Linked DNA regions of Homo sapiens: regions 1, 2 and 3 are each linked to region 4. The links come from fine-mapping of genetic effects on gene expression. A gene starts in region 4. Each other region holds a variant in brackets. All regions are shown on one strand. Distances are between the middles of the regions.

Region 1 (8,112 bases), 350 kb after region 4:
AGCTATGTGACCATGTGAAAGTTACATTTAGTAATTAAACTCATTTCAGTAGTTTGCTTTAAGAATAAAATTAGGTACTCCGGGGGCATATCAAGCATATTGTAAAACCTAGTTTGATTATTATTTGTTATTGGTATTACTATTACTATTCTATAATAAGTCATGGGCAGGCAGTAGGGGTACATTGGAAGAATTGCACTGTCTTAAATATGTCCTCTGTTTAACTCACAAACTCAGTCTACCTAGGCTTTCTTTGGAGGATCTGCCTTTCATTGGCTGTTTGACTTTGGCCAAGTTACTTAACTTCTTTTCACTTCAGTTTCCTCATCTGTGAGATTATGTGCTTACATGACTTCAGGTTTTGTTTTGGCTCTAATATGGTATGATTCTATGAAATGGAAAGTTAATACATTTGGCTCTAGTAACTGTATTTGAAGCACAAATATTAAAAAGCACAATTAATTCTCATTCTGAGTTTCCATTTACTCTTTTAAATTAATCATTCAGAATAAATCATTTTGGAAGAGCTGCTTGATCCAGGTATTCAGTAGAAATCACTAGCATAGCATTTAATTTTAGACAAAACTGAGAACTCATTAAACTGCCAGGGCTATGGACTTATATGAGATTCTCATTAAATCTTAATGTAGATAACTCAGTTAATTAAAACAAATATGGTTGTACTTTATTAAACTTCTAAAGTCAAAACTGCATTGAAATTATCTGTACAAAGCCTTGTTGACCTTTATTAGAGAACTGCCTCTCAAAAGACCTAAAAGACTTATTTGTTCAGATCGAGACTCTTCATGAGCCGATGTGATACTCTCCCTCTATTGCTAGATCTTCGCATCAGAAGACAGCATTCCTCTGAAAGTGTTTCTAGTATCAACAGTGCCACAAGCCATTCCAGTATTGGCAGTGGTAATGATGCCGACTCCAAGAAGAAGAAAAAGAAAAACTGGGTAAGTTACCATCCTTCATCTAATTCAGAAGCTTATTAATGCATAATGTGTTAGGCCTTTTTCTTTGGGGCTTTAGTGATCTGCAGTAGTTTACAAAGGGTCCCATTCAAGCTACTGAGACCTCAAATGCTGCACTCATCACCAAAATTGGAGTGGCATGTACTGAAAAGCATACATTTTAATGTTGGGACTAAACTTGGGTTTGAATCACCACTATATCTAGACCTTTTGAGGGGCCTGAATTTTCTAACCAATAAAAAGACAGTTAATAGCAACTATATTTATTTGTGAATATCATTTATTCACAGATGTTATCTAATTTTTCTATAGTATAACTATACAAACTATGTAGTATAACTATAGAGTTATACTAAAGAAAAATAAGATAACATCTGTGAATAAATGGCTTAAAATAGGGGTTTATTGTGGGCATAGAGATGAAGGAAAAGTGAAAAAATGATGATGATGGTGATGATGATGGTGATAGTGGTCTTGGAGGAAAAGGAGAATGGGAGTTAATAAAGGGAAAGAATAAACAATGAAACTCTCATTCCACCTTTGGAATCGACAGGGCTTACCGTGTGAATAGTTTCACCCTAAAAGAAATCAACCACATTAGTGTCTGCTTGATGTTTTTAACCAAGAGAATATAGCAGAAATATAGAAATGCACTTTAACAGAACTGTACCTTAAGTTTGCTAGTGATATAATTTATGATATTGATCAATAGCTAAATAGCCCAGGGGAAGATACTGTTACTGCGAAAAATTTAAAAACAATGGAGTCAATGATTTCTTTTAATACCAAAAAAAAAATGTAGATTTTGAGTAAATACAACTCTTGATGAAATCCAGACATAATTATCAGAGGATTTTACTGGAGTGCTTTCTACAAATAATGAAAGAAATATCTTTTTATCTTAAAAAATGTTTATACAGGTAATATTTTAAAATACTGATCAGCCTTCATTCCCTTGATTTGTAATTCCACACTCTTTCATGTTTCTGCAAGGTGAACTCTAGAGGAAGTGAGGTGAATATAAACCGTGGACAATTTGGCATGCATCTATAAAAAAACCCTACCTTGGCATGAATGCTATCCATTTTGGCAGTAGGCTTTTATACCTTTTAAAACAGATTACCTTGTATGTCTTTTCTTTGTGTCTTTTCATTTTAATCTCAAATTTTAAAGAGATGTAAAACCACTTTCTGAATAGAGCTGTAGGGGATACCAATTCTGGTTTTGAGTAGTCTGGGGTTGGAAAATTTGAATAGAAAAATCACAATTAATGAAGTGTTAGGTGAATTTGATTTCATTTTGCTTTTTAAGTTTGTACTGTCAGCAGGACATGACTTGATTGTAGCGCTAAAGTGGCCATTTAAAACAAATTGCCTTGAAGAGAGAAGCATTGGGAATGGAGATCCCTTCAAGGTACTTAGTTTTAAATGAGTGCTCTGACAGCCATGCCCTTGACCTTGCACTATTTAAAAGCCTTCCATGTTTGCGCTGCGCTGGATTAATACAAGAATAAAATGAACACACAAAACACGGTATCATTTTTTTTTTAGAGATACTGTGCTGCAATTGTTAATACTCTGCTTGTACATACTGACCCCAGGCAGTGGCTAGGATGGCATCTGCAAACTAACGCCCCAAAGCAAAAGCTCTCCAAGTGCAAATAGACAAGAAGGGTAATTTCTGTCCTTGTTTCAGCTGAGAAGTTCTTTCAAACAAGCCTTTGGGAAGAAAAAGTCCACCAAGCCTCCTTCATCACATTCTGACATTGAAGAGCTTACTGATTCATCCCTTCCGGCATCCCCCAAGTTACCCCATAATGCTGGTGACTGTGGCTCAGCATCCATGAAGCCCTCACAATCTGCTTCAGCGTAAGTTGCTCCTTCTGCAAAATGCAGACATATTTTTTAAAAACAATTTTAGATGAAGGCCTTATTTATGTTCTAACCATATCTGTACCAATTATTTTCAGATTTTTCTGAGAATGATGGACAGCATTAGTTTCTCTTTTCATATTTCTCTTTCACTGGTTTCTTTCATTTTCATTTTTCTTTTTCATTTTCATATGTTAGAATTCAAGTGTTTCTTGATCTCATTCTCCAGTTTTCTGAATCATGATTCTCACTTCTTTTCATGGGCATTTGTCCATGTATCTGTCTAACTGTATGTACATACAGGTCACCCCTTGTCTGGCCACCAAAGAAACGACAAAATGGCCCTGTGATCTACAAGCATAGATCTCGGTAAAGTGGAGTGCGATGCATGAA[T/C]ACTGCAAAGATCCAGGTTCTAACCTAAGTAGTGTTTGCTTTTGCTTTTTCTAAAATCACTCACATGCATTTCAACAATAAATACCTTCTCTTTCTGTTTTTTCAACTAAAATTTGGTTTCCTAAAATCAACCTGCAATCCAGTTTTCTTTGATTCTATTAGTTAATCTAACCTAGCATTTTTATGATAGCCCACTTTTTGGTAGTACAGTAGCCCCCCGTTATCCACCAGGGGTACTTTCCAAGACCCCCAGTGGATGCCTGAAACCATAGATAGCACCAAGCCCTATGTATATTATGTTTTTTTTTTCTATACATGCATACCTACATATGATAAAATTTAATTTAAAAATTAGGCACAATAAGTGATTAACAGCAATAATAGAACAATTACAACAATATTTTCTGATAATAGTTATATTAATGTGGTCTCTATCTTCCTCAAAATAGTGTTTTTTTTTTTTTTTTTGAAACAAAGTCTCACTCTGTCACCCAAGCTCGAGTGCGATGTCAAGATCTCGGTTCACTGCAACCTCTGCCTCATGGGTTCAAGCGATTCTCCTGTCTCAACCTCCTGAGTAGCTGGGTTTACAGGCGTGCACCACCACACCTGGCTAATTTTTTGTATTTTTAGTAAAGATGGGGTTTCACCATGTTGGCCAGGCTGGTCTCGAACTCCTGACCTCAAGTGATTCACCCACCTCGGCCTCCCAAAGTACTGGGATTACAGGTGCGAGCCACCCCACCTGGCCCAAAATACTGTAATATTTTTGGACCATGTTTGACTGTAGGTAACTTAAACCACAGAAACTAAAATTGTGGATAAACTATAATTGTGGGGGACTACTGTACAAGAACGAACACATTTCGAATATAGAAAAGTGTTCTGGTGAGATAATTCTCTGTGTTATTTACTATTTAAATCTAATTTCCTTGTATGCCCATGACAACAACTAGCATAGAACTCATATAGAACAGGGCCACTGTGCTTTGCCTACATAATTTTATCATTTATGCAGAAAGGAAGAACATGTCACTGTCATTTTGTGGCCAGTAAACTAGTTGTCAAATTTTAAATGGAAAATATGTTAGTTAATATAAAACAATTTTTTTGGCAAATTTCCTGCGAAGCTGTCCACAAAACAATAAAAACACAACAAGGATACAATGTGTTTCCTTCAAACAGCCCTCAGCTAGCCTGCTAACAGGGGCTGAAACCTTTGATTTAGCTGTGATCTCCTAAATCAGCTGAGCCCAGTAGGGAGGTTATATAACTCACCCATTATTTAAATGTCCAAAAGTAATATCTCTAATTTATTTTCTACAATGTTTATATTGGATTTTTATGGTAATTAAAGACAGTATTGTGGCAAAGCTTTTTTTTTGCACAATTTTACAAAAGAAGAAATCAACATTTTAAGAATGTAATAACTGCTCTTATAAAAGAATAGTCACATGTTGCAAATAGAGGTTTAAGTCCCTTGAAAATGTTGGAATGAAATGTAGTAATCTATGACTTTTCTGCCTATAAATATCACCAATAAAAGAATTTTTAGGATTACTTTATATTCAGTAAGAGTAGACTATTTTTAAACTTTAAAAAATAGAAAAAAAGATTAAAAGAAAAAGCTACTTCCGTTTTGAACCTGTGAATGCATAACCGTTTGTAAAACTCCTTCTCCTTTTCTCTAGGTTTTGCCAGCAGCACACCATATCTGTACCTGCTGGAGAATATTGCAGTGCAGCCTTTAAAAGAGGCAGTGCTTTTCTTAATCCTCTGGCTTCCCCAGGCCACTGATTCTGTTTGTTTCCTTCTTCAGGATCTGTGAATGCACAGAAGCTGAGGCAGAGATAATTCTGCAGCTGAAGAGCGAGCTCAGAGAAAAGGAATTAAAATTAACGGATATTCGGCTGGAGGCCCTCAGCTCTGCTCATCATCTTGATCAGATCCGGGAAGCCATGAACCGGATGCAGGTTGGTACTGAAGCACTTTCAAGGAATAAAATGGAGAAACAAAAAAATGCTGCTTATTCTGTTCTCTTGGTTAACACAGAATAAATTCCACTTGGAAACCCACCTTAGAAATGTACTCTGTTTATTCAGTCTTTGCAACTCATCTGTTAGTACTGAATTGAGAATTTTGTCAAATCCAAGTTTGGAAGTGGGAGTGCAAACTGGCAAGTTGTATTCAAGAACCATTCAGGATACTGTACTAGTAATTGGATTCAGGTTGAGAGCTAAGCTTTTAGAGAAGCTACTACAATTCTTGCTTCTTCACTTTTCCATCATTTACTTTTATTTTGGCTTTTTGCCTGTTCTTTTGAAATCTGATTTTCACATACTTTCACCAGTTTTCTACTGAAATACAAAAGTAATGAGGAAACTATAGAAATTCAACACAAGCTTTCTGAATACAGAAGTAAAAGTGATTTAGAATGCCATCTGTAAAAGTAAGGCTTGTGTATTTTTTTGAAAAACATCTAAAGGCTAAATTCAGAACCAGTCTGTGCTCAGACTAAGTTTTCATTTTATTATTGTATACCAGTAATCACTTGGTACCACAGATGACTGCAATAAGAAAAGCTCATTGCTGAGCAGATTCATCTGCCACTGTATATGTTCATCTAAAGACTTTTGTTGTTTTTTTATGAGCTTAGTGTCCCGATTGGAAGGAAAAAAAGAAACTTTTTCAGATGTTAGATATGATTTTGGAGTAATTTTAAATCACCTTATTGACATTATTTTTGTTTTGCTCTGTCTTTCAACTGTCTACAGATTTATAACAATATTACAAATGGCATTATATGCTTATAAGATTTTAACATCACCTTTAAAATGAGAAGTGTTATGAATGATTTCATCATATTTTTCTTAATTCAAATGAGACCAAGTCCTCATGATTTAGTTAAAAAATAATGATAAGCATGTCGAATGGTTGGATTGTCTATATTTGTGAATTCAGGAATGTATAATGTGTGAGAGAGAAAAAGGTTAAATTTCCTTCTTGGGAAGGAAATCCTATTTCATATCTTATATTTCTTTATTTAACATATTAACATGTTTTATTTAACAAACAAGCTAATTAACTCTGATAAAAGACTTGGTGCTATTTTCTCAATCAAACCAACTCAGTTTTTTTCATGTTTTCCATCTTCATAACAGAATGAAATTGAAATACTGAAAGCTGAAAATGACCGGTTGAAGGCAGAAACTGGTAACACAGCTAAGCCTACTCGGCCACCGTCAGAATCCTCAAGCAGCACCTCCTCTTCATCTTCCAGGCAGTCATTAGGACTTTCTCTAAACAATTTGAACATCACAGAGGCTGTTAGCTCAGGTGATTTAGTGCACATGCTTGCCTGAATCACAGCATACCCATGAGTTAACGGGTGGGAAGCCTGGAATTTGGAGAACTTTACGTACTCTTAAAAATGTTACACTCTAATTCTCAGAAATAGTCCTAGTTTGATCTTATAAATCTAGTCTACTTAGTTATAATTTTAAAAGCACATTCTCTGTCCAAAAGTCAGTCTTAGAGATATGGTCTTCATAATATTTTTAAGAAATCACTTTTCCCTAGGAAGTACTTTCTCCATGATTCTGATGATGAAGAAATACTCTCAGTGATGATAATTAGTACTTATGGATATAATAATAACCCCAATGACTTTTATTAAGTGTGCAAAACCCATTTATAAGTGTAGCAGGCTTTATTTTCTAAATCTGACTTGATGAACCTGTGTGATGCTGCTCTGAGAAAACAATAATGCTACTGTCACCCAGTCTGCAGCTCTATTAAATTTCCAACAAAGATAAAGAACACAGTACTAGTGATGGAACAAGGGTACAGTTTTGATTTGATTGCAAATAGAATCATATGACATAATGTCATCTTAATATCTCATGAACCATTCAAGCATAAAGTGTAGCTGTTTCTGTGGAACAGTTCATTCAAGAGAATCATTTCAAGGATAGAGAATTTAGTCTATATAATATTTACATGAGGATCTATGGTAATTGTGAAGCACGGCCACCAGATGACGCTTGGAAACCAATAATATGTATGTTCCTAGCCAACGTTAGATTCCATTATAGAATGGAGATAGTACACTGCTTGCCTTAAATCATATTAAAATACAGAAGGAGAAGGAGAAGGGAAATGACATGGCATGCTGATATTGATTACATTTCCAATGAATCACATCTCTTCTAAAAAGACAGAATGTTAAAAATTCTGCTATTATGGCTGCTCTTCATAATATAAAATAATGGCCTTCATCTTATATGTAAAAGACAAGTGGGCACTCCCTGTAATTTAAGAAAACAACTTTTGTAAACTTCTGGTGGGGATTAGAGAAAGAAAATAAATTCTGAGAATAAGCATCAAGTACAACTAATGTCAGAAGCCAAGTAAAAAGCAAGAGATTTCAGAATTAAATGAACTTATAGATCATTAGGTAAAATAAGACTGTGGAAGTGGATGGTAATTTGAGTTTGTAAATTACACATAAAGTATTATCCACACTCAACAAAATATTCTGCAAAAGAAAGAACGCAAATGTTTAAATGTATAGAATCTGGCAGTTCTGAACAACATCCTCTATGTTGGCTTGTTGCTGATGGACCTGACAGAGAAGTGAAGTAAGATCTACATCTCATAATGACCAGTGCATTTCTGGATCCTCAGGCTTGTCTCCTAGGAAAAGACAAAGGCCAGTACCTTATAGGTCAGACTAATGGTAGGGTTTCACTGCCTTTTATAAAATTCTGTTTTATTTTATGAAAATATGATAAGGTTTGAAGGAGGCAAGTTTAATACTGAAGGTGGTTTAGAAAAAACAGACACATATAAAAAAAACTTAGTATCTA
Region 2 (8,112 bases), 180 kb after region 4:
TATCTATATATTTATATCTATGTATATATCAATTTATAAGACTAAATAGACTTGGCCATATGTGTTGTTGGTTTATGCATACATGCACAAATATTGAGGTGTCCACAAAGTATATATGCCTGTACATAAATTACATACTGGCTGGTGAGTGAATGTAAGCTTCTCTAAATTGTACAACTCTCCACAGAGTGGCACTCTAATATTGCAAAGGTACAATATAAGCATGTGCAGAATGAACAGCTCTTCTAGGATCCCTATAAAACTCCACCCCATGTTTCTTTTGAGTCACTATAAAATTGATGACTGAGGCAATACACGAGCAATTATTTATGCAAAGCAGTGTGAGGAGGTGCATGAGGATCCACTTAATACCAAGACATATTTAGATTTGACTGCCACTTTTCTTCAACTTAATTTTTTTAAAGCATTTGGTATGTTGTTGTGGAATTAAAGTCCTAATTATTTATCAAAATAAGTGGCATAGCCACATTGTTTAATCATTTTCCTCTTTCCACCACGATCTGTGATGCTTAAAGTATCCTATATTCAGCAGGGACCATCTATATCAATGAGCACAATGCCTGCCATGCAGGAAATACTTCAGAAATGAATGGTGCTTTTGTCATCATTTTTGTTGTCACTTATTATATTTCAGAGTTGGAACCTAGTTTACTTTTGTCAAAGCAACGCACTATTCAGTGAGGAAAAAGAGATAAGCGATTAAGAATCATCTCTATGTCCTTTCTCAGACTGATACCACTCTTGGTAACATGGTGCTAACTCTACAGCTAACTGAGGTTCCAGAGAGAAATGTCCCACTATAAACTTTCCATATGCCTGTTGTGACTGCCACATTTACATCCATGTATTAATTTTAGAACTTGGTTGGCATTGTTCCCAAGTCATCAATATTGTTTATTTACAAGATGAGATAACTAGACATTAGTTCTGTGAATTTAGATGTTTTGCAAGTGTGAACGAATATCTATTCTCACATCAACTCAGAGGAACAGGTGCAAGTAAGATGCTAAAGAAGAAGGTATATAATACCTGAATAAAGTGTCTTGTGTGATGTTCTCCCCATTTATATCCTGCTCACCAAGGAAGAAGGAAAACAAGGAGTTACCCAATTAACTTGACTGTGCGATAAATGTGGCTTGCTGGAGAGCCATTTCAGCAGAATTTCTGGCATGCAGTAAACATGTGGAAAGAAGAGACAGTGAAAATCTTCCAAATGTTTGAGTCAGATAAAAATGAGTTCCAATTTAGATTTTGTTTTTTCTAAGTTTTGCCATATGTATGATTGAAAACAAATTATCTTTCTAAGTTTTCATTTTCTCATTTTTAACAAGAGAGATCATAAGCATATTGTAGATTATTATGGGTTTAAATGAGATACCATGTATGAAGTACTTATTATGTACTTGGAATAAAGTAAGCAGTAGATGAATAATATTATTTGGTTATGGTGGAGTTGGCAATGGTGAGTGTAGGTGAGGTATAAGAAGAGGAAGCAGAAGACAGGGAGTGGAAGCAAATTGCTATTTGGGGACCATAGACAAGAGGTAAGGCTGTAAGCAGAGATAGCCCATAAAAATGCAAGATACAAATCCATTTTTGGAATGCCTTTAAATATGTGCATTAGAAATCTGTTATTTTCCCCATGCTGAGATTCATTCATAGTCAGAAGTTGAGTAATCAACATTCAGAAATATGTCATTGAGACCAGGCTACTTATTCCTGAATATATAAATGGCAACGATTATAATTTGTGACTACATTCATTCTGTAGAAACTACAGGTGCTGCCATTTCAGCTGCTGTTGTGCAATCTTTACTGTGAGGAGTCCAGAGAGACTCTTATTATTCCAGTGCCTTCCTGATGCACAACAACCTATGATTTGCCCTCTTAATGAAATCTGAAGCATCTCATTGCCTCTGTATAGGGACAGGCTGTGGACAGATTTAGAGCGGAGCTTCAGGAAGTATCTTATATGTGTGTACTCGCCTGAGAATGATGTTACAGCTGCTGTTATGACTATTACTGTGGGTTGGATGTGGATGTCATAATTCAGAGTCCCTCTTGTTTCAGTTTTGGGTGCAGTGATGTTGAAATTCCTCTTCTGTACTTGAACTTCTATAGCAGTCTTCTAGCTAATGTCTTCAACTTGTTTCTCTTTTCTAAGGAAAGAGCACCTTCTCTTATGTCCCTTGTTCATCAGCCAGTTAAAAAAGCATCCTGACTGGTTCTTTTCTACCCTCTCCGATCAACCCCACCGAAGCTCCCAGGCACACTCTTACTTCTTAACCTAGTTGTAGATGCACAGAAGATACATAACAAGTATGTGGACAAAGAGATGAGAAAAAATGACATTAGGGGAACCTGAAGAGTTTATTTTGGTTTTAGAGATTATTTGAAGCAAACTGCTAAACATCCAGGTGAACTCAGAGCTAGCCAAGGTTCTGAAAGTTCAGTAAAAAATGTTAATATTGCATAGCTATGAAACATTTAATGAATTTAGCAATTTGGGGGACTGTGTTAAGAAACAGCCCTTTAAAACTGAAAAGGCCAACAGTTTTCAGAATTTGTGAGTCTACTCAACCCTTGCTACTCAAAGTATGACTTGTGTGTGAGCAGCAACGGCATCATTCAGAAGATTGTTGGCAATGCAGAACCTCAGGGCCCACTGCAGACCTGCTGTATCACATGTGCATTTAACAGGATCCCCAAGTATCATGTGTGCACATTAAAGTTTTGAGAATGACTGTGGTAAACACTTAGAATGTTTGACATTCCAAGAAAATTATAGAGCTTGGGCTGTAGAGTGACAAGATGTGGGGTCAAAGCCTAGCTCCACCATACACTCCTCATTAGATACCTAAATCATTGAATGAAGCTTACTAAGCTCTGGTTTCTACAAATGGGAATTAGGAATATGAGCCCTTCCCACTTCAATGGGCTGTTGTGAAATAATGCAGTTAGAGAACCTTCAATAAAATGTCAGTTAGCATAATTATATTTGTAATAATTATTCATATTATATTCATTATAGAATAAAGCGAAATATCATAAATAACTTTTTTTTTTGAGAGAGAGTCTTGCTCTGTCATCCAGGCTGGAGGGCAGCAGTGAGATCTCAGCTCACTGCAACCTCTGCTTCCCGAGTTCAAGCATTATACAACATATTTTTATAGGGCAAGGTGGAATATCCATTTACTAGCATGGGCTACAGTGGTGGTTGGAAAATAACAAAGAGAATTGCTTAGAGGAGGGATAGTGTTTTGTTCATCTTTGGATATCTGTGACTAGCAAATTTATTTGGGTAAGAGTAATTTCAGAGGGGAAAATAAACACGTCCCCCCACAGCCCCCACCCCAGAATCAATGCCTCTCAAACACTCTGCATTTTTGAAATATGGTAAAAAAAAATCACATCAGAGAAGTGATTGATGCTGCAGTCTCTTTTCAGTTCAGAGGAGAGAGACTTCTATCCATCAATAGTTTGGAAGTTCTCAATTATGTAATATAAATGATCAAGATTAATCGCCTTTTCTTTATTTTTCTTCTAAACAATGTCCAGATTCCTCCAAAGGACCTCAATCGTCTTCAGGTGTAAATGGTAACGTGCAGCCTCCCAGTACTGCTGGGCAGCCTCCTGCCTCTGCCATCCCTTCTCCAAGTGCCAGCAAGCCCTGGCGCAGCAAGTCCATGAATGTCAAACACAGTGCCACCTCCACCATGTTGACTGTAAAGCAGTCAAGTACAGCCACCTCCCCCACACCATCTTCAGACAGACTGAAGCCACCTGTCTCAGAAGGGGTCAAAACTGCTCCCTCAGGACAGAAATCCATGCTTGAGAAATTCAAGCTAGTCAATGCCCGGACTGCTTTACGCCCCCCGCAGCCTCCCAGTTCAGGACCTAGTGATGGTGGGAAGGATGATGATGCCTTTTCTGAATCTGGTGAAATGGAAGGTTTTAACAGTGGTCTGAATAGTGGTGGCTCAACAAATAGCAGTCCCAAAGTGTCACCTAAGTTGGCCCCTCCAAAAGCTGGAAGCAAAAATCTCAGCAATAAAAAGTCTTTGCTACAGCCAAAGGAAAAAGAAGAAAAGAACAGGGACAAAAATAAAGTTTGCACTGAAAAACCAGTCAAAGAAGAGAAGGATCAGGTGACAGAGATGGCTCCAAAAAAGACCTCCAAAATTGCAAGCTTGATCCCTAAGGGCAGCAAGACAACAGCAGCTAAGAAGGAAAGCTTAATTCC[G/A]TCTTCCAGTGGTATTCCAAAACCAGGCTCTAAAGTTCCAACAGTAAAGCAAACCATTTCACCTGGCAGCACAGCAAGCAAAGAGTCTGAGAAATTCAGGACTACCAAGGGGAGCCCTTCCCAGTCCTTATCTAAGCCTATAACCATGGAGAAAGCAAGTGCTTCTAGTTGTCCTGCCCCTTTGGAAGGAAGGGAAGCTGGCCAAGCTTCTCCTTCTGGTTCCTGTACCATGACAGTGGCACAAAGCAGTGGGCAGAGCACAGGAAATGGTGCTGTCCAACTCCCTCAACAGCAGCAACATAGCCACCCGAATACCGCGACAGTGGCACCATTCATTTACAGGTAAGGTGGCCTCTGTTTATCCACAGTTGTAAATATATTTACAGGCCTACATACTCAGAGTGTAATAGGGAAGGCTGATAAAGTGGTGCTTTATGTCGTCATTTTGGAGTAAAGTTTCATGCTAAAGATAGAGGCCTAGAATTCAGTGCGGAATCTTAGTCTGGAAAAAGACTTCCAGTAGGATCTAGTTTTATTCCCTCTCTCATTCCCTGTCAGCAATTGAGACCTTCAAAAATTGAATTACTTGTTATCAAAAGCCAGCTAGAAACCAGATGCCACAACTTTCTCTTGTGTTTATTCATATTATTGCTACTACTATACTGCTTCTATTACTAGCGGCAGACTTTTAAAATAATTCTCACTTTTACATCGTTTACGGTTATTTTTGTTGTCATCTTTGGGAGAAAGTATACCATAATGGTTAAAGAGGCAGCCTCTGAAATGATAAAGTTGCGGATTTCATTCCTAGTTCTGCCACTTTTCAGCTATAAGACATTGGGAAAGTTACTTAACATTCTTTAGTCTCATTTTCTTCAGCTGTCAAATAGGAACCATGCACTACTTTGTAGAGTTGAGACTATTAACAGAGGTCATGCATATAACATGTTTACTGTATATCCTGATGTGTTGCAAATGTTCTTCAAATGTTATTTATAAGATATTACTTTCTCAGTGTAAATTTTATATTAATTTCCCACAGCAAGGCATAGGTTTCTAGGTAAAAGGGGTTACATATATAATTTGTATTACTTATTTGGGTTGTATTACTGATTTGTTTTTTTTTTACCTTTTATTTATTTATTGTTTATTTTACTTTGCATTCTTATTTTGTAGGCATTGAAATACACAATATAAAATTTTTAAATGCATTATTATGCATTTTAAAATATGCATCCTACCATCCAAATGGTAAAGACAACACTTTGCTTGTTGTTCTGTGATTTGTTTTAATCGATTAGAGATATGTCAGTAACTGCTGTGTCCCCAGTTTATTCACTGCTTGGTTGGTAAGGAGATGGCCTGGGGAGCAATAATGTCTGCTTTGTCCCTCTTTCGGGCAGGTTGGCAATTTAACTACAGAAAGAAAATTTTATGAATAGGAAGCAGGACCCACTATAATTAAGAAAGGGTCAAAACTATATAGTTTAAAATTTTATTAAATTTTTTGAATGTAAAAGTTTTTAAAATAAAGCAGTTTATACTGATTTATTTTTTTGCTCAATGAGGAATGTAAGTGCTTTTTTTCTGAGGTTTTTTATACACTCAGCAAAACAAAATTATTATAATTATTACATTTAAGCTCTTGGGACATTACAATTGAATGTTGCTATTCTGACTTCAATAGTACTAACTCATTTAAAATACTTGTATTTGGATCAGATGGGAGTCTGCAGCTCCTTCTGACTCCAGGGTCCCTGTTTGACAAAGCAGAATTTAAGATGTCAAAATCATGATCCACATTTCAAAAACGTGAGAAAAAAAATCATGAAGTTTTAAATATGTCATACTCAGCACACTTTTGGATTACAAATATATTCTGTAAAAACATCAATCCTTTCAAAAAATCACAAGTGAATTTCATAGGAAAGTGTAAATCTAGAACTGCTAATTTAGTAGGCTTCTTTCTATAAGTAGCAACAAGCTTTTAAAAAAATTGTTTGCAATAAAATATCCAGTGGAAACAAATTTAGTGGTTTCCATTTGAAAATGTAACTTTTAAATATCAAAAACAGGAAGCAGCACAGCAGCACAGCTTAGAAGTTACAGTGTGGATCCGCTGTGTGAACCTGATGAGTTCTTTGAGAAACTCTTTGAGTTTCTGTTTGACCTCTTTAACAACAAGACTATAAAAGTGAGGCAGTGTAGCCAAGTAGCTAAGAAAAGAGGCATTAGAGAGGCTGAAGCAGGAGGAGAATCGCTTGAACCCAGGAGGTGGCAGAGGTTGCAGTGAGCTGAGATCGTGCATTTGCACTGCAGCCTGGGTAACAAGAGGGAAACTCAAAAAAAAAAAAAAAAAAAAAAAAAAGAGAAAAAAAGGGCGATAGAATATGTCTTACTCTACCATTGTTCAGAAACAGCATCTTGTGGTGGTGGTTGCCTAGGTGGGAATCTCAATGCCACCACTGATCAGTTGTGTTACTTTGGGTCATATATGTAAAGATTCTGACCCACAATTTCCTAATCTGTGAAATAGGTATGATAATTGTAGAAGCTACCTCATTAGCCTATTTTGAAGATTGAGTTGATATTTATCTGTAGAACAGTATCTGCCACATAGTAAACAGCCTTCCCTAAACTTCACTTTCTAATCCTATAAAGTATGATTGATAAAGGATGCCTACCTCGATTGATTGTATGAAAGATTAAAGAAAATAATCCCATGTAAAATTTTTAGCACACAGCCAGATTTTGAGCAAATTACATGAATATCAGTAATTATTTTTATTATTATCAACAATATAAGATAGCTAAAAATAAATGAAACTATGGTTGGCATGGTGGCTCATGCCTGTAATCCCAGCATTTTGGGAGGCCAAGGTGGGAGGATGACTTGAGGCCAGGACTTTGAGACCAGCCTGTACACCAGAGCAAGACCCTGTTTCTACAATAAATAAATAAATTAAAACTGTCTCATAAAATTTCACATTGAAGTCTATATATAAAGTAATATTCATTCAAAGTTTTTAAATCAATGCAGAACAATTTTACAAATAATATGTAAATCCTCAAAAGGCAGAGTGGTTAATATTCATTCTTTTCAGCTTTCAGTAAAAGCTTGTTTATAGAGTCATGACATTTGGATTATGTAACCTTTTATGTTCTTTCTGACTTTCACTGTTCTATCCCCATGTAAGAATCCCTCCTATAAAATCCCTGACAATTATTTTTGGAGTTGCTAATCATTTGATGAGATAAGACTAATAATTTACTTTTTGATGTTGGTATTATCATTTGTTGAGTGCTTACTTAGTGAAAATCTTTGTGTCACAAAATATATGTGAATTTTCTCATTTAAACTTCATCATGAACTCATGAGAAAAAATGTCATCCCCCATTTTCCAGAAATGAAGAAGCAGAGATATTAAGTCAGAATAGTAATAATCTCTTCAGATCATAAAGCTAGTAGAAATTTGCTTTGCTTATCAGTTCTATCTATGTGACAGAAATAAGAGGTATTGTTACTGAGAAAATTCTGGTTAGGAAAATGCCAATAGTACACTTGCAAAATTCTCAATCAGAACTCATTTATAATTGAAAATGGTAATTGCTGTTAATTAGTATAAATTATATAAATGTATACAGATACATATATATATGATATGTAAATATAATTAAATAACTTTTATATAATGGGAAGATTGATGGCTGATGGTGACTTTTTTTCTCAATTCTAGGTCAGTACTTATTCCTTCTGAGACTTCAATAAATGCTTCATAGTACTCTTTGTCACACACTGGGTGTTCAGAGTTCTATAAATATAATGTGGATTCTGGAAGTTAATAGAT
Region 3 (8,112 bases), 200 kb after region 4:
GTGCTGAATTCAGGTGACTGTGATAATAGCAATGATGAAGATAACAATGTTAACACTGCAGAAAAAGTGCCTAGAGACAACATGATAGAAATGCATGATGATCTTAGTGAAGAACTAGAGCAGTGTACATTCATTACAGAACAATAAATTATGCCAGTTGATAAAAATCAGAGAGATTTCTAAGACAAAAACTGTTGTTAATGAAGCAGATGACTCTGGGGTAAACATTTTAAAAAGCTACACAGCAGAATGCCACCTCATCCCTAAGGGGCCCACTTCCCAGTCCCTCAACTGCTTCTGATGTTTCTTCTCACCTAAAAAAAAAATACAGTGTACAGTAACCTTTTAATCCAAATACAGCATTGAATGTAGAGATGGAAAGCTTGTGGTTGTTTGTGGTTGCTGTTGTTTCATAGCTGATACAGGTATTCTGGCAATGCTACTGTGCTGCTTAGTGACCTTGAACACATTATTTTTTCACTGCATTAATGCTATGTCATATTTTTTATTGGTAAGTACTTATGTATAAATAATTGCAATAAAATAATTGCCTATTAGTAGCATATAAATTCAGTCAGGAATGATGGTGATGCCACAAAACCACAGATTGTACAATCCTGTTAGGTGACTGAGATAGAGACACCTTTGATTTCTGATGGTTCAATGCACATAAACTTTGTTTCATGCAAAAAATTTTTAAAAATGTATAGAATTACCTTCAGGCTATGTGTATAAGATGCATATGAAACATAGGTGAATTTTGACTTGGGTCCCATCCCCAAGATATCTCATTATGTATAGGCAAATATTCCAAAATCTGAAAAAATTCAACATGCAAAACACTTCTGGTCCCAAGCATTTCTGATAAGGGATATTAAGCCTGTAATAGAATAACCCTATAAAAGAATGAACCTCTCAGAATTCTAAAGCTCATGAGATGTTTTCTATATTAATGATGCCTCTCTTTCTCAGAATCTCCATCCTTTATTGGCTTTCATCTTTCTGAGTTCTGGATGCTAGTGAAACCACAAAGCACTAAGCACCTGAATTTATTGCCAGGTCCTAGCTCAGACTGGCCCACAGAATACCCCTTCCAAGACTGTTTGAAATGTGGAAAGAGAAATGTTCTAGGAATTGGAAAAAATAAATTTTGGCTTCAGCACTGCAATTATTTAGCGATTATTTGGCCTCTGCACTGTGAATTGCTCCCTGGTTCCCTTTTCTGTGTGGTGAATATGATGATACTTAATAAACTCAGAAGATTGTTGTGAGGTATGGTATTATTCCTCCATCAGTCTTTTCAGTAATTATCACCTGGCATCTTACACATGCCAGACATCTCAAAATTTGGGAAAACAAATGTGACTAAGAAGTGAGCTCTCCTTTGAAAAAGTAAGAAACAAATAGATAAAATTTAACACCACAAATAAATGAATAAATAGGCACATGGAAACAACTAACTTAGCTGTAAAGAGTCATGCAGAACTTAAAAGAAGATCAGACATGCATATTGTAGAATTCTAATGAACAATGAAATTGTGGAATAACATGAAAATAATGGGAAACAAATTCTTCTTAACTTACTCTTTTCATTAGTTTCTTTTTGTAAAATTGGGCATTTCTCCTAAACTTACTGAGGTTTCGATAGTTCTCTGATTTTCTGCAACCCCAAGCTTCAACACTATTGTTATTGTTGAACTTTTATTGCTCATGGTTGCTGTAGGGGCCTCAGTGAGGAATAATTCTGCTTCCCAAGTGAAGTGGCCTTCATGATACAGAATTCTGAGGAAGTTAGTCTTGCCAGGGTAAGATGCAGGCTTTATAAATTTGTGAAGTCTATATAACATTCAGAGTCCTGAAAATAGTACAGAAAATAAAATGTATAGTGTCTAGAAAGGGGTTTAGGTGAGTTAGGAGTTCTATAGCTTAAGCTCTATTGCTGTGTATTAAGCCTACCTGGAAGTACTGGTGTCGTTTTGTGTGTCTGGTATCCATTGCCCCATCTTCTGATAACAGCACCTTGATTTTCTTTGGGGAGAATTCTCTGCTCATGTGATCTAACTGAAATTGATATAAGTGGAGCCAATGAGAACAATCTATTCATTGACTGCAGTGACTGTTTGAGGACTGGATGTGTGACCCAATCAAGTTTGATCAGAACAAATAAGACTCAATCTCAGGACTTTTCCTGAGGTTGTTATAAGAGAAAATGTGGCACATATACACCATGGAATACTATGCAGCCATAAAAAATGATGAGTTCATGTCCTTTGTAGGGACATGGATGAAATTGGAAATCATCATTCTCAGTAAACTATTGCAAGAACAAAAAACCAAGCACCGCATATTCTCACTCATAGGTGGGAATTGAACAATGAGATCACATGGACACAGGAAGGGGAATATCACACTCTGGCGACTGTGGTGGGGTGGGGGGAGGGGGGAGGGATAGCAATGGGAGATATACCTAATGCTAGATGACGAGTTAGTGGGTGCAGCGCACCAGCATGGCACATGTATACATATGTAACTAACCTGCACAATGTGCACATGTACCCTAAAACTTAAAGTATAATAAAAAAATAATAATAATAAAAAAAAAGAGAAGTGGTCTCTTTTTCCACTACACCTAAAACTAACAAAAGAGAAGCTTAGACCTGCTAACAGTGACCTCCACCCTCAAATGAAACAAACATAGAGGAAACAGAACCTAAATCAGGAGAGACCAAATTCAAGGCCATTGTCGGAAATAACTGAGCCCCTGAAAAATCCATGTCTGAAACTATTTCTCCTCTACTTTTGAGTTATGTAACCCAGAAAAAAGTCTTTTTGTGCTTACACAAATGTGAAAATCATCCCTATTGCATGACCCACAGGATGTATGACATGTAAAGATTTGCCATACTATTAAAGAGCAAACTTGAGTGGTTCACATTGCAATGCAGATGTGTTAGAGGGATTTGCTAAGTTAGTTGGAGAGCTTAGCTGTTTAAATTTTCACCAATGCAGTAACTCACTTGACATTATAAAAACATTGTCTTTGCCATTAAATGGTAATGAAAGTTTAAAAAGGTAATAAATTATGGTTTGAAGATAAATATCAGAAATGCATGACACTCAATAAAGTAGAATACTGGATAAATGACTTTTTCAATTTGAATATTCTTCATAAGTCTTCAGTGCACCTCTCCAAAATTTTTAAGTACGTCACTTAAATTTGCTTTTGCTTATTATGTTCTTTGTGAAGAAACCTAGTTGTATTTACCCAATCTGATGATGGTAGCTCCAATAATTATTATAGTCAGGTGAAATGTATTATATAATTTCTGCCATTGAAGAAGTAGCTTATTGCTTCCTGCCTTTCCTCTAAGATTCATATCATGACCTCAATATTACAGTGCTGGCTGAATTAATGGTACAGATTTTACTGCTTTGGCTTGAGTTTTATTCTCACATTCATTGACAGAAAGAATTTGTCCTCAGAGGCCATCCCTTTCATCATCTTCCAAGTGATTCTGCCAAATGTAAAGCGAGCCCAAATTTTCATCCCACTGGTACTCAAGGAAGTTTTTCAATTTTTCTTCTATAGGTTCACACTTGCCCTTTTTTTTTGCATAAGACTATCCACCAACATGTAACACATTTGTTTAATTCACTTCTTAACCTTTATCTGGAATTTATATTCAACTGAAAAATGTTCATAGGTGCTGGACTGGCTCAATATCAATAAAGCTGGCATGTCATTTGTAAAAAAGTAATATTAAAATTATTGGTTGAATTCAGGAAACCATTTTAGAAATAGAAGAATTTAGGTTAACCAGAAGGATAAGCGAATGGTTACATGTGCTTTTACTGACTACCAGACTTTGTATTAAAAGTGGGAAATATCTGACATTTACAATCTCTGTAAATGATCACTGAAATTGCCCTTTTTTTTTTGAATGTTTATAAAGATCAAGAAGATCAAGCTCAGATAATTCAAATCAGTTTAGGTCTTTTACTTAAATAGCCACATTATAATTATGTTTACTAAAGAGCTGAAAAGCATTCCTTTCCAGCACATTATAATAGCTATAACTTATTTTAGGTCTTGGCGTAATTAGAATGATTCACATTTTTCCTACTGACTGGGTGTATTTGTCTCCTTTGCACTGCACCTTCCTCCTCTTCCTTGTATAACATACATCTATATGTGTGAATACAAACAAATATAAAAACATTCATATATGAATGTACCCCCAAAGCAAGCAGGATGGCGCTCTCCAGAGAAGGAATAAGTGGGTTCCCCACTGTCGCTCAGAGTAAATGTGGACTGATGTAGTTCTGGGACAAACCTACTGTAACCACAAGTTAATAACAATATCTTTGAACAAAGAGACAGAAACCCCCTTTTGATAAGCCTTCTCTACAATCCCCTCCTTGCTGGCTCCATTGGACTGAGCCCATCCTTTCCAGGGTTCACCCCTCCAGAAGGATTAAATTTCCTGTCTCATTGAATCAGGAAGAACCATGTGATTTAATCTGACAAATGAAATACAAGTGGAAAAATGACATGGGATGTTCCTGAGCAGAAACTTAAGAGCCATTGCTTGGATCTCTCACCTCTCTTTTCCTTTGGTCATAAAATCAACATGTCCCAGACTAGGATTGCTCTTGTAGCATGGTTGTTAGAATAAAGAATACCTGAGAGAGAGCTGTAACAAACAGAGTGGACATTAATGTCAGCAAAATACATCTTTGTATTGAATGCCACTGAAGTTTCTAAACCATTTGTAAATGCAATATAACAATCTAATTCAGGATTTCCCAACTTC[G/A]GCACTGTGGACGTTGTGAAATGCAGAATTCTTTTTTGCATGGGGGTGGTTTATCATTGTAGGATGTTTAGCAACATCACTGGCCACTTCCCCTTAGATGTCACCACCACACCCACAGTTGTGATAACGAAAAATGTTTCCAGATATTGCCAAATGTCCCTTGGGGGAAAAACCATCCCCAGTTGAAAACCACTAATCTCAGCATAGTAGTTCTCAAAGGGGGTTTTCAGAGCCAGCAGTATCTGGAAATATGTTAGAAATACAAAGTCCCAGGACCCTCCGAGTCCAACTGAATGAGCAGTTATGTGGCTGGGGCACAGCGAACTGTGTTTTGATAAGCCCTCCGAGTGGTTCTGAACATATGAAGCTTGAGAACCACAGGTTTAAACTGATTGGTATATGTATAAGCAGTCTTGAATAAGGAAAGGGCATAAATATTGCTTTTATTTACAGATGAATAAGGTCAACTCATTTGATATATAAAGCATTAGAATTGCATTTTTTGTGAATCTGTAAGGCTTTAGGGTATATTAGCATATATACTAGTGTAACAAATGTTAAATACATTGAAATTTCATAATTTGAACAAATTTCACTATGGTCTCAGGACTTGGAAATTCACTGTGTCACAATAACTCAAAATGAAAGAAAAAAGATTTTCTACTTAGGAATTCTAAGGGGAGTGTCATTTTGGTCTTCCAAAAAATACTTTACAAAATTGTGTTTTTAGGAGCATAACTGTCAGTTTCAATTATCTGATATTTGTACTGTAATTTTATTTAGCACATTTTATATAAACGAGTAGTATTTAAAAAGTATAGAATTGAGAATGAGTATCAATAATTCACAGATTTCTTTATTGCAGAATTTTGTCACAAATAATTGCTGTTCTTTCCAGCTAATTTCCTTTTCATATCTATAAAATGGGTCTAAGTCTGATCTACCTTGAAAGGTGGGGCATAAGGAATAATTAACTTTACAAAGTAAGTGGTTATTATGTGTAAAGTTATAGGCAATGCATATTATAATGCTAATATATATAGTTATGAGATTGGGTATTTCCTCTATTGAGATTGGCAATAGGAGGTAGAAAATCACAATTAATTTTGCCACATTAGCTCTGAAAATGATGAAGATAATATCTCTGCATATTTCTCCATTTTCCCTCATTTGATAAAGGAGAAATCCCTATTTTTCTGTTTGTGAGCAGAAAATCTTCAGAAGTTAAATACTGAAAGGTCGATAGTCTTCTTAACTGTCAATGGTACCCATGATTTCTGCTATACTATATATTTGTTTTTTAAAGTTGTCCTAAAATCAGAATTTTGTGGTGGTATAGTGTACGTACCAGTACAAGGTAAATACAAGAAAATTATCTTTAGGTTTTCTGTTTTTATGAAAACATTAAGAAATAAGAGCTGATTATGCTGTGATAGGCTTATGAAATAGACCTGGAAAAATGCAATATCAAAAGACACAATGTGCATTTTGTGTTATCTGTAACATTATTATGTTCCACACACTTGACCATAAACTTTCAATTTTAAGCTTTGAGTCAAAATATCAAGGGAAAACCCTTTTGAGTTATTTTTTTCTTTCTATTTCCTTTTTGTTTTTACAAAAAGGCTGTAAGAAATCTTTATCATCACATTAGGATTTTAGGATTCAAAATAAGAAGGCTTTGACTTTGTTCTTTAAAAGATTAGGGAAGTCTTTCCCTTTAAAGCATTATCTCCTAGCGGGTGGAGAGTGTCATGCTTCATTTTTTAGGTCCTTTACACTCTTGAATTTGATTTGTGCTTTTACAGCACAAATCCCAACATTCAGAAGGGAGATCTGCCTGCTTCAGCTGCCTGCAGCTACAGAGAATTAGTCTGTCATTCTCGGCATCGGGGAGTGTGTGTTGTGTATGTGAGGGTGTGAGTGTGTGTCCGTGTTTGAGATTGGGTGGCTGAGAGTCATTTAAATGTGCATAAGGTTAATAGTGGAAGATCTCGTACAGGCTTGGCTCAGAAACCTGTGGCATTCTACGCTGGACAGCCGTTCCCGTGCCTCTGTTTTAATTTGGCAGGATGTTTGCTGCCATGGCAGCCAGCAGCATCCACTGCAGCAGCAAGGAAGAGCCATAGATCTGAGAATGCAGGTGGAATACTAAAATGTAAGAGGCTTGTGCAGGGCTGGGCGTCAGTGCTTAATTCCTGCTCTTCCTGGGCTCCTATGAGCAGGCTGTACTTGCTGCACTGTGTCAGCTCGTTAGAGTAAAGGGTTACAGACCTAGGTCAGTTAAGGGCTGGTGAAAGGCAGGGGAAAGAAAAAAAAAAGCAAAAAGCAAGAGACCTCAGCTCGTGCTTCACCTCCTGGCGTTTCGGGACACAGAAGCAACAGAGGGAAATGTGGACCCATCCTCCTGCTGAGACATGTGATTGGATGAAGACGGGCAAACGTAGTTGGCTTCCTGGACTACTTTTCAGCTGGAGGAGAGTCTTTGGTGAACTCTTTTCTGCTTCAGATATATTCGAGCAAAATATTTGTAAGTACTGCTGATTAGTAAAGTGATGTGTCAAGCTAAATTGGGGGCAAATAATTATATATACTATATCTCTAGAATCTTCTGTGAATGTGTGAGCTTGAGCTTTTATTGAAGTGCATGTGATAATCAAAATCAAATGGATCAGTTACAATCACAGTGTAACAAGACAATATGAAGTCCAATTGAAAGGAAGGAGCCACTGGAAGAATCATGCAGCGGCCTGCTGAACTCTCTGTGTTCCGGAGCAAAGAAGTAAGGAGAAAGGGAGCTTGCCTTCAGAAACAAAAGTCTCTGACCAATCTTTCCCTCACCAGTGATGGGGAGAGGAGACCCACGGTGCGCATTTCCAACTGGTTTGGAAATGCTGCCAAGGCCAGCCAGAGAGAAGCCAACTATGCAGAGCGGCGCTCACTGTCCAAGTTTCTCTCGCGGTCTGTGCAGTCCCTGTATCACACCAGCAGCTCAGCCTGGAACCTCCTGCCTGCTGGGGGCAGCCAGTCAGACAGTGAAGACTTAGAGGAATTGTCTGCAAGAAGAGGCTTGGAAGGTGAGAGTGATGAAGATAGTAGGTCTGAAGATGAAAACGTGTCCTCCAAGCCAAGCAGCATCAGCAGAAGCTGGGCTGAAGAGGAGGGAGAAAGCTGTTTGCGGGAAGGGACAGCTCATCTGGATGAGGAGGTGATCCTTACCATGCTGGGTGATCTAGAACAGGCACTTTACACTGACTTATTAGGTAAGTCCAATTTGCTCCTAAAAACGTGTATGGGA
Region 4 (8,112 bases):
CTCACAGCACCCCTGTGAAGGAAGAATAATTATTTTTTTACTCCATTTTATAGATGATGAAACTGAGACACAGCAACTTCCAAATTCATATAACTAGGAAGTAAGGAAGCAGAGATTTGCTTTTAAGCAGTCCCACTTTACAGCCCATTGTCTGAACTATCAAACTACAAATCCTATAATTTACAGATCTTAAATTCTAGTTTTTAGAAGAATCAATTCGCTTAAATATGACTCTCAGACCTTTCCCTCTCCCTCGTGATGGTTTCAACATGAGTTTTGCATCCCCTCCAAAAACTCATGTTGAAATTTAGTTGGCATTGTGAATGGTATTAAGAGATGGAGACATTAAAAGGTGAGTAGGCCATGAGAACACTAACTTCATACATGGATTAATGTTATTGTGGAAGTGGGATTATCATGAGAGTATAATCCGTTATAAAAGCGAGCTTGGCCCTTTCTGTCTCTCTTATATGAGTGCTCTCTTGCTCTTCTGCCTTCCACCATGGGTAGATGCAGCAAGAAGACCCTCACCACATATGGGCCCCTCACTCTTATGCTTCCCAGCCTCCAGAACTGTAAGAAGCAAATCTGTTGTTATTTATAAATTACCCAGTTTTAGATATTCTGTTATAGTAGCACAAATGGACTAACACAGTGGGTTCGAGATGAATACAATCATCTATATTTTAGTAAGCACTCAGGTCACCATCACATCTGGTTTGTTGAACTCAGTTTGTAAAACCTCATTTTGAACTTCATCTACAAGGTATCAGTGACCGTAAGCTAATTTTTTACTTTCTCGGTGCCTTTGTCTCCTAGGTCTCAAAACGGTGTGGTTCTTTTAAGATAAATTGAGATGACAACTCCTGGCACAAAGCACATTTTTTATAGTAAGTTAGTTTGGTTTTGTTGCTTTTGGTGGTAGATATTACTGCAAAAAATTAGTTGACAGTGGCTACTAATACCATCTTATATTTCAGTCAGAGTGAAAGATATTGCCTAATATGCAAAAGGTATTTCAAAGTGAAAAGACATCTTATTGAATGTGAATCCTTTTTTTTCAATCTAATTGTTCCAGGAATTACGATACATTCTCCTCCAATGCATGTTTCCAAAATACCAATGAGCTCATTTGTAATTGGCAAACAGGAATTTTGTACTAGTATAATGCAGAAGTTGTGTAGCTTTATATACAATTTATTCTAGGCAAAGGGAAGCAGAATAGTCAGCGTAGAATTATAACCTTGGGTGGGCAAAGAAGCCCTCAGTTTGAATGTTGTATAGTCAGCAGGAGCCCTTTTGGCTCAGTTTTAAGAAAACTAAAAACAAAAACAAAAATGAATGCCTGCATCTGGGGCTTCCTCTTCAAAGGGGCATGCCCCTGGCCTTGTGCAGCTCTTAAATATTTGCAGTTGCCCTGACCCTGTACCCATTTCAATGGCAAGCCTACTGGCTTGGAGTTTGCCTTCCAACCGGATTTCTTCCACCAATTCTGGTTAAAGTGTTGCCAGCATTTATACCCAATTATTTTTTTATGTAATTCTGAGTCACTTCCTTGAGTGGTCCAAATTATTTTCTGAGGTGCCAATATTATTTTTGCTAGCAATATACTCCCAAAGTTGCATATGTTTTGAGTGAACTTCCTAGAATCAATTTTTCCCACAAGTTCTATTATTTAGGTGCTGTTTTGTTTTGCATTGTGAGGATTACAAGTTGCATATGTCTTATTATGAACTAAACCTCATTTTACGAACATGAACCTCTCCAACTCTGTATTACCTTATAGTTTCTGAAAGTTATAATGTGTTGAATGGTTTGCAAATTGCAAAATAACTTACTTCCTCAGAGAGATTATTTCATTTCTTTGATACCACTAGTGTTGTATTTGTTTTGTATTACCCCGCTGTGTAAAGCCCACTTGGGTTACTATTTTTAAAGCCTGCAAGACTTCTAACTTACATTTCCTGTCTTCTATGCTGCATCAGCAGAACATATACTTTTAGTTATTGGCTCTTTCATCTATAAATTACTGCTTCTTAGATAAAAGTACGTAGTGATTTAAAGACCTGGAAACAGTAGGCCAAAGATGACCATTTCTTCACTAAAGAAAGACATTTTCTATAAAAAATGGTTACGATTTAATAATTTCCATGATTCATTGTGTCTATACTAAGTGTCCACCACTCATTTTTCTAAGACCTTTGGTTGCATTATTACTAATTTTTATATTTGGTGTATATAATTGCTCTCTGTATCCATTTTCTGAGTGCAATCAGTTTCAGAACAATAATGCATGGTACATTAGATGTTTTCTTAAAAGTTTACCCCTTGTTTATTTAAAGTTCCTGACATGCTTTAACCAGAAATAGAACATGCTATGATTATATTAAAATAATTCTATGGATGGAAGCATCATCATTCATTCTCACTGAGTATCTGTTTGGACAGTTTTTAGAAGCTTGGGATTTTAAGTTGGACGTCATAAGCTTGAATAACAGTGTTATTTTCAACCATTTTAAAAGACAGGTTTACAAACTAAAATCATACATTCTTTCCCCCTTTCTAGCTTCATCATTTTAGTCAATTTTTTCAGTGTCTCCAAGTCATAGCTGTTCTTTCTATAAAGTGAAGAAAATAAATATGCCTATACTTTGAGTCATTCCAATGATTAAATGTGATAATGCATAAAATGCTTAGCTCCATAACTGCTTTGTAATACATTCCACATAAGTGTTAGCTTTGAATGTTTTTATAATCATGACTTATTAAATTTGGGAACAATGATTACTACATATTTAGTGCCCTGCTTCCTGTGTTTACTCTATTTTCATAACCTAGGCAGCTATGGTCCGATGAATGATTTAACTGCTTTAGCTAGTTGCACTATTGCATGATTTTAGCCTGATTTCATGGGATGCAACAGAATGAACATCGTGGCTCATGGCTGTCAGTAGTGAAAAATAGCTGGAAATCAGACAAACAACTTTATTGCTGAGATTGTTTCCGGGCTAAAAGTTCTTCCAACAGCTGTTTGTTTTGGCCATTAACATGTCCATTCTTTTTATTTTTTCTGAGCTGGGGGAAATACAATTTTCTTTAAAAAGAGAATGCAGGCTGGCTATTTCTGAAATCAGGAAGAACCCCTGTCCTTCCACTGTTGTGGTCTTTTGGCTGCTCTGACAGTTGGACTGAAGGGCTTTTCCTTTTGATTTTTTCCTCTTTTTCAATCTCAAAGTTCAGACTCAGACTGCTTTAGTGAGAAAAAAAAATAAGCAAAACTAAGAGCTCTTTAATCCTAAGAAGGAGCTTTGTAGCAGTTACCTTGAAGAAGAGTTTACTCCCCAAAGGAGTATTTAGTATTACTTAGATACTGAGTCACTGAACAGAGAGAGAGAGAGAGACAGAGAGAGAGAGAGAGAGAGAGAGACAGAGAGAGAGAGAGAGAGAGAGAAAGAGAGAGAGAGAGAGAATGAGAATGAATATGAATCCCAGCCAGCAAGAAAGAAAAGATACTTAACTAAAGATGCAGGGAAGTTTTGCCTCTTCCTGAAAATTATATTATTAGCTTTTTAAAAATCAGGATGACTGCTAGTTTTGTTTAAAGTATTTGTTCTGGAAATACTAAAGTTGGAGTCTACCAGACTGAGGTTAGAAGCATTTTCTTTGGCAGCAAGAAGATAATTTTATAGAAGCCATGCCTGTTCTTGGGGTTGCCTCAAAACTGAGGCAGCCAGCTGTTGGGTCAAAGCCTGTGCATACTGCTCTTCCGATACCAAATCTTGGCACTACTGGGTCACAGCACTGTTCTTCAAGACCTTTGGAACTTACTGAAACAGAGAGCTCCATGCTTTCTTGTCAGCTTGCGTTAAAATCAACCTGTGAATTTGGAGAGAAGAAACCCCTCCAAGGAAAAGCCAAGGAGAAAGAAGACAGCAAGGTTAGTTGCTGAAGTTACCTGCAGACTTGTGTAGCTAAAATGCACATTTCTCTTTAAGTGCACTATAAAACATGTTATGAAATGGGGAGTAGTAGAGGAATACCAGTGTAAGGATGTAAGTAGTTATAATGGCTGAAAAGCTGAATATTTAGCTTATGTAAACACTGTATTCTTAGTTTAGAGTTGTAAAAGTCATGATCAAAATTTTCTGAATATGCATCTATTGTAATCATTTAATACTACTTATTGATGAATGCCTAGTTAGTTCTAGATATTGCTCTATTACTAATAATCATAATCAGTCACAAATGTGAGAAAAAGAGAACCTATTGTCATCCATACTGCAATGTATGAAAATAGGTACTTTCAAAAAGACATTTATTTGTAATAATTCATATAGACACCATCACTTTTCTCTAAATGTCATTTGCATTTCAAAGAATTTCTGCTTGAAAATTTGTATCATAGGCTGCTTAATTCATTGCAGTATGAAGGAAAATGACATACTATTTTCCTTGATACTGCACATTTATATGGACTTTCCCTTGTAAACTGAAACGCTACTCTTTTACTTATTACTGACATCTTTTTCAGTCATTTAATTTATGATATTTTGTGAGTAGTTGCTCATAGCCCTTGGTTTCTAAAGCATACTACAACCGTTTTCTCCAGTCACGCATGCTAGAATGGCACTGAAGCTGCTGAACTTCATGCGGATTCATTTGTACCTTGATAAGCGTCACTTTTGTTTTGTGCATTTTTACTTTTATTGGTACATATTAGGTGTATATATTTATGGGTACATATTGGTGTATATATTTATGTGGTTCATGAGAGATTCTGATACAGGCATACAATGTGTAATAATCATATCAGGGTAAATGGAGTATCTGTTGCCTTAAGCATTTATCATGTCTTTGTGTTGCAAACATTATATATTCTTTTAGTTATTTAAAAATATAGAATAAGTTATTGTTGACAGTAATCATCCTATAGTGCTATCAAATACTAGATCTTATTCATTCTATCTAAATGTATTTTTGTACTCATTAACGATCCACACTCCCCCTACCCCTCGCCACTACCCTTTCCAGCCTCTGGTAACCATCATTCTACTCAGCATCACTTTTTAATGCAGCATTAACTATGATGTCAAGCTTTCCAAAGTCACAGCCTCGTCTCTGGCTTCTTAGGAAATATTTTCATTTTACTCTGCTATCCAAATGTTAGTTTAAAATAATTTAAGGAAAAAACCTTTATACAAAAATCAACTCTAGAAGTGAAAAAGAAAGCCACTCCTTTTTCTACAATGCCCATCCCACCTTCACCTGTTCAGATCCTTTAAGCTTTATCCCAGATCCAACTTTATTCATAAAGTCTTTGCTAGCTATCCCTTCCCCACCATTCCTCCTTCCCAATTCTTTTTCTGTAGAAATGCTTGTGTATTTTAATTATCTGGATAATTTCTTTTAATTATCTGGATAATTTATTTGTATCTCCACTAAGTTGAAAACATATAGAAGGCAGGTCTCGTATCTTATCCTGTGTTCCAGCTCTCTCCCTGTACAATGCTTTATGCATGATAAGAATTAAATAGTAGTTGGATGAATGAATACAGCAATTAATGAATCAATGAATGAATAAATAGTTATTCCGAGAAGGATTCAGTTAAGTTTGTTCATCTTTTGGAATCATTTCGAAACAGGAAATGTTTCCTTGTCCCCCTCACAGGGCATGTGACAGCAGGAGTGGCTTACGTCTTCAATGCCCCGCTGCTGAAACCTCTAGAGGGATCATGCAGATGGGCAGGGTGTGGAGCTTCGACCCTACAGCAGCATCTAGGGTTGAGTATTTACAGCTCCTGAAGCTCCAGTGGGCGTGTGTTACAGTGTGTTCTTTTAGTTTTGCAGTATGAAGGTGGCTTGTGTTAATCAGCTCAGTTAGACCCTCTGCCTTATTGCAAGGGCAGAGGGCTTTCTGTATTCTGGGTTCTCGCCTTGGTTCCGGAAAAATCGAGTCACATGTGGGCTTGGAGGATGAGTGCAAGGTTCTTTTGAATGTTGGAAGTACCTCTCAGCAGATGGATGGGGAGCCATAAGGCGGAAAGGTGATTTTCCTCTGGAGTTGGGCCGCCCAGCAGCCAGACTCTCCTCTGACCTCCCTGGCTAGATTCCCCTCGGGTCCATGTCGTTCTGCAGTCGATGGCCTGCCGGTGTCTGCAGGTGCCTGTCGGTGTCCTCTTCTGCTGGTGTGTTCCTTTCGACGTCCAGCCGCTTATGTGTTCCTTTCGACGTCCAGCCGCTTGTGTGTTCTTCCGCCAGTGTGTTCCTCTCGATGTCCAGCCATTTTTGTCTCTGCCTGCTAAGGTCTCGGGGTTTTTATAGGCACAGAATGGGGAGGTGGTGGGCCAGGGTGGTCTTAGACAATGCAACATTTGGGCATGAAAACATAAATGCCTGTCCTCACTAGGTCCATGGGCACAGGCCCAGGGGTGGAGCCCTAGCCAGGGACCCCATCTTTCTCTACACAGCACTTCCCTGCCCCCTTCCTGTATCAATTTTATGTATAAAACAAGGGGTTGGGAATGGATGATTTGTGGAGTTCTATGTCTAACATAGCATTGTCCATGTGAGAAAAATCAGTTAAAATAAAATATTTTTTATGGGTTTATAGTTCTCAGTTCAAAGTGAACAATTCAGAGTAAAAAGCAGGGAAACATAAATTATCAACAAAATACTAAAAATATTTATCTTTTTGCAAATAATTAAAAGAAATGCCATAAAATTCCATTCTAATCTTCTGTGTATCCACAAGTCTGTATGGATTCAATGGCAAGAATAGAGAGAGACACTGTCTCTGCTGACCATGGCTATCTTTTCTGTAGGTTTAGTGAAACTTCCACTTTGCTAAATGACCTTGGCCTAGGATTTGAGCACTATAAGCACTGTTTTCAATATAATTTTGGTTGATCTCTTTGGTTAGCAAACATATTAATCAAACATCTGATATCCCAATAAGCCTCTGTGGTAAGCAAAGTTGTATTTATAGGGATGTTTTCACCATGCCACTTATCAGATTAAAAATGTTTTCAAACAAATGTAAAGAATGCCTGGTCAGCAGTTCAGAATATTTCTAAATGTTAAAAAGAAGTATATGTAGAGTTATTTTAGCTTTTGGGAAAAAAAAAAAAACCCAGAACTGAAGTAAATAGCAAAATCGAACAAGGTAGTTATATTAGAGAGAATTAGACTTGGCTGCAAAAGCAGAAAAGTCAACATAACAATAGCATAAAGAAGATAGACGTTTATTTCATTTTCATGTAAAGGAAATCTGGAGTTGAGCAGTCCATGTATGGCTGGTAGGGAGACTTCAGGAAGTTGTCAGGGAACCAGGCTCTATTTTGGTTGCCATCATCGATTTGTGGCTCACACCTCATAGTCTTGAGTAGATAATTGCACTCCACTTAATTAAAAAGATACACCCTGTTTTATTAAATATTCTTCCACACTGGCCTCGTTATAGTTCCAAGGCCTTACCTTGCTCCAATGGAGACTGAAAAATGTAGTATTTGTTCTAGGCAGCCATGTGCTCAGCTAAGAATTATGGGTTCAATTTCTAGGAAAAGATACTATTGATAGTACCCACAATAGACGACTGTCATTAAGAAACATTTATGTGGGGTACTCTGCTAGTCCTTGTACCAAACAGTTTTATGATCTGGTTTGAGAGAACAAATTTACATATGACAGTGTCAGAAATGTGTGTTCAGTTGTCACTCCCTTCACCTGTTGTTTCAATTAGTGCAAATGCCATCATTCCAGTCATCTAATCCCGAATTCCTAGACTAATATCTGGTAAAGTACATCACCATTTCACATCCCATAACTTGCCAGAAGTTGAGAATTTTACTTCAGTATTATAGCTTGGGTTTATCTTCTTCTGCAATTGCTCATCCTTTGATGGCCTTTAAAGTTTCCTATCAATTATTTCAGTGATTCCAAATTGGTATCGTCTCCTCCTGTGTCTCTCTACCCACATCCATGCAGCATATTCACCATCCTGCTTAAGAAGAAAACTTTATTTGCTTCTCATATCTTATAATGTCTTCATTCAGGCATTCTTGTCTCCCAGTTGTCACTTTCTCTATTTCCGTCATAGCTCCATCTAGCTGCTAC

Evidence for each region. PIP is the estimated chance that this variant, and not a neighbour inherited with it, causes the effect.
Region 1: its variant is fine-mapped to the expression of NAV3 in spinal cord (GTEx, PIP above 0.99).
Region 2: its variant is fine-mapped to the expression of NAV3 in whole blood (TOPMed, PIP above 0.99).
Region 3: its variant is fine-mapped to the expression of NAV3 in whole blood (TOPMed, PIP above 0.99).

The regions. Positions count from the first base shown.
Region 1 is chr12:78,174,466-78,182,577 of GRCh38, forward strand. NAV3 (neuron navigator 3) reads left to right here. Exons shown (of 40, transcript NM_001024383.2): 25 at 841-962; 26 at 1,974-1,994; 27 at 2,676-2,848; 28 at 3,155-3,220; 29 at 5,064-5,217; 30 at 6,406-6,580. Among named protein-coding and RNA genes, the nearest start is that of LINC02424, 180 kb to the right of the region's middle. The variant T/C (reference allele first, on the strand shown) is at 3,245.
Region 2 is chr12:78,002,840-78,010,951 of GRCh38, forward strand. NAV3 (neuron navigator 3) reads left to right here. Exons shown (of 40, transcript NM_001024383.2): 8 at 3,580-4,606. Among named protein-coding and RNA genes, the nearest start is that of NAV3, 180 kb to the left of the region's middle. The variant G/A (reference allele first, on the strand shown) is at 4,265.
Region 3 is chr12:78,029,310-78,037,421 of GRCh38, forward strand. The region is part of intron 9 of NAV3 (neuron navigator 3); the gene reads left to right. Among named protein-coding and RNA genes, the nearest start is that of NAV3, 200 kb to the left of the region's middle. The variant G/A (reference allele first, on the strand shown) is at 4,815.
Region 4 is chr12:77,827,768-77,835,879 of GRCh38, forward strand. NAV3 (neuron navigator 3) reads left to right here and starts at 3,127. Exons shown (of 40, transcript NM_001024383.2): 1 at 3,127-3,937. The coding sequence starts at 3,695.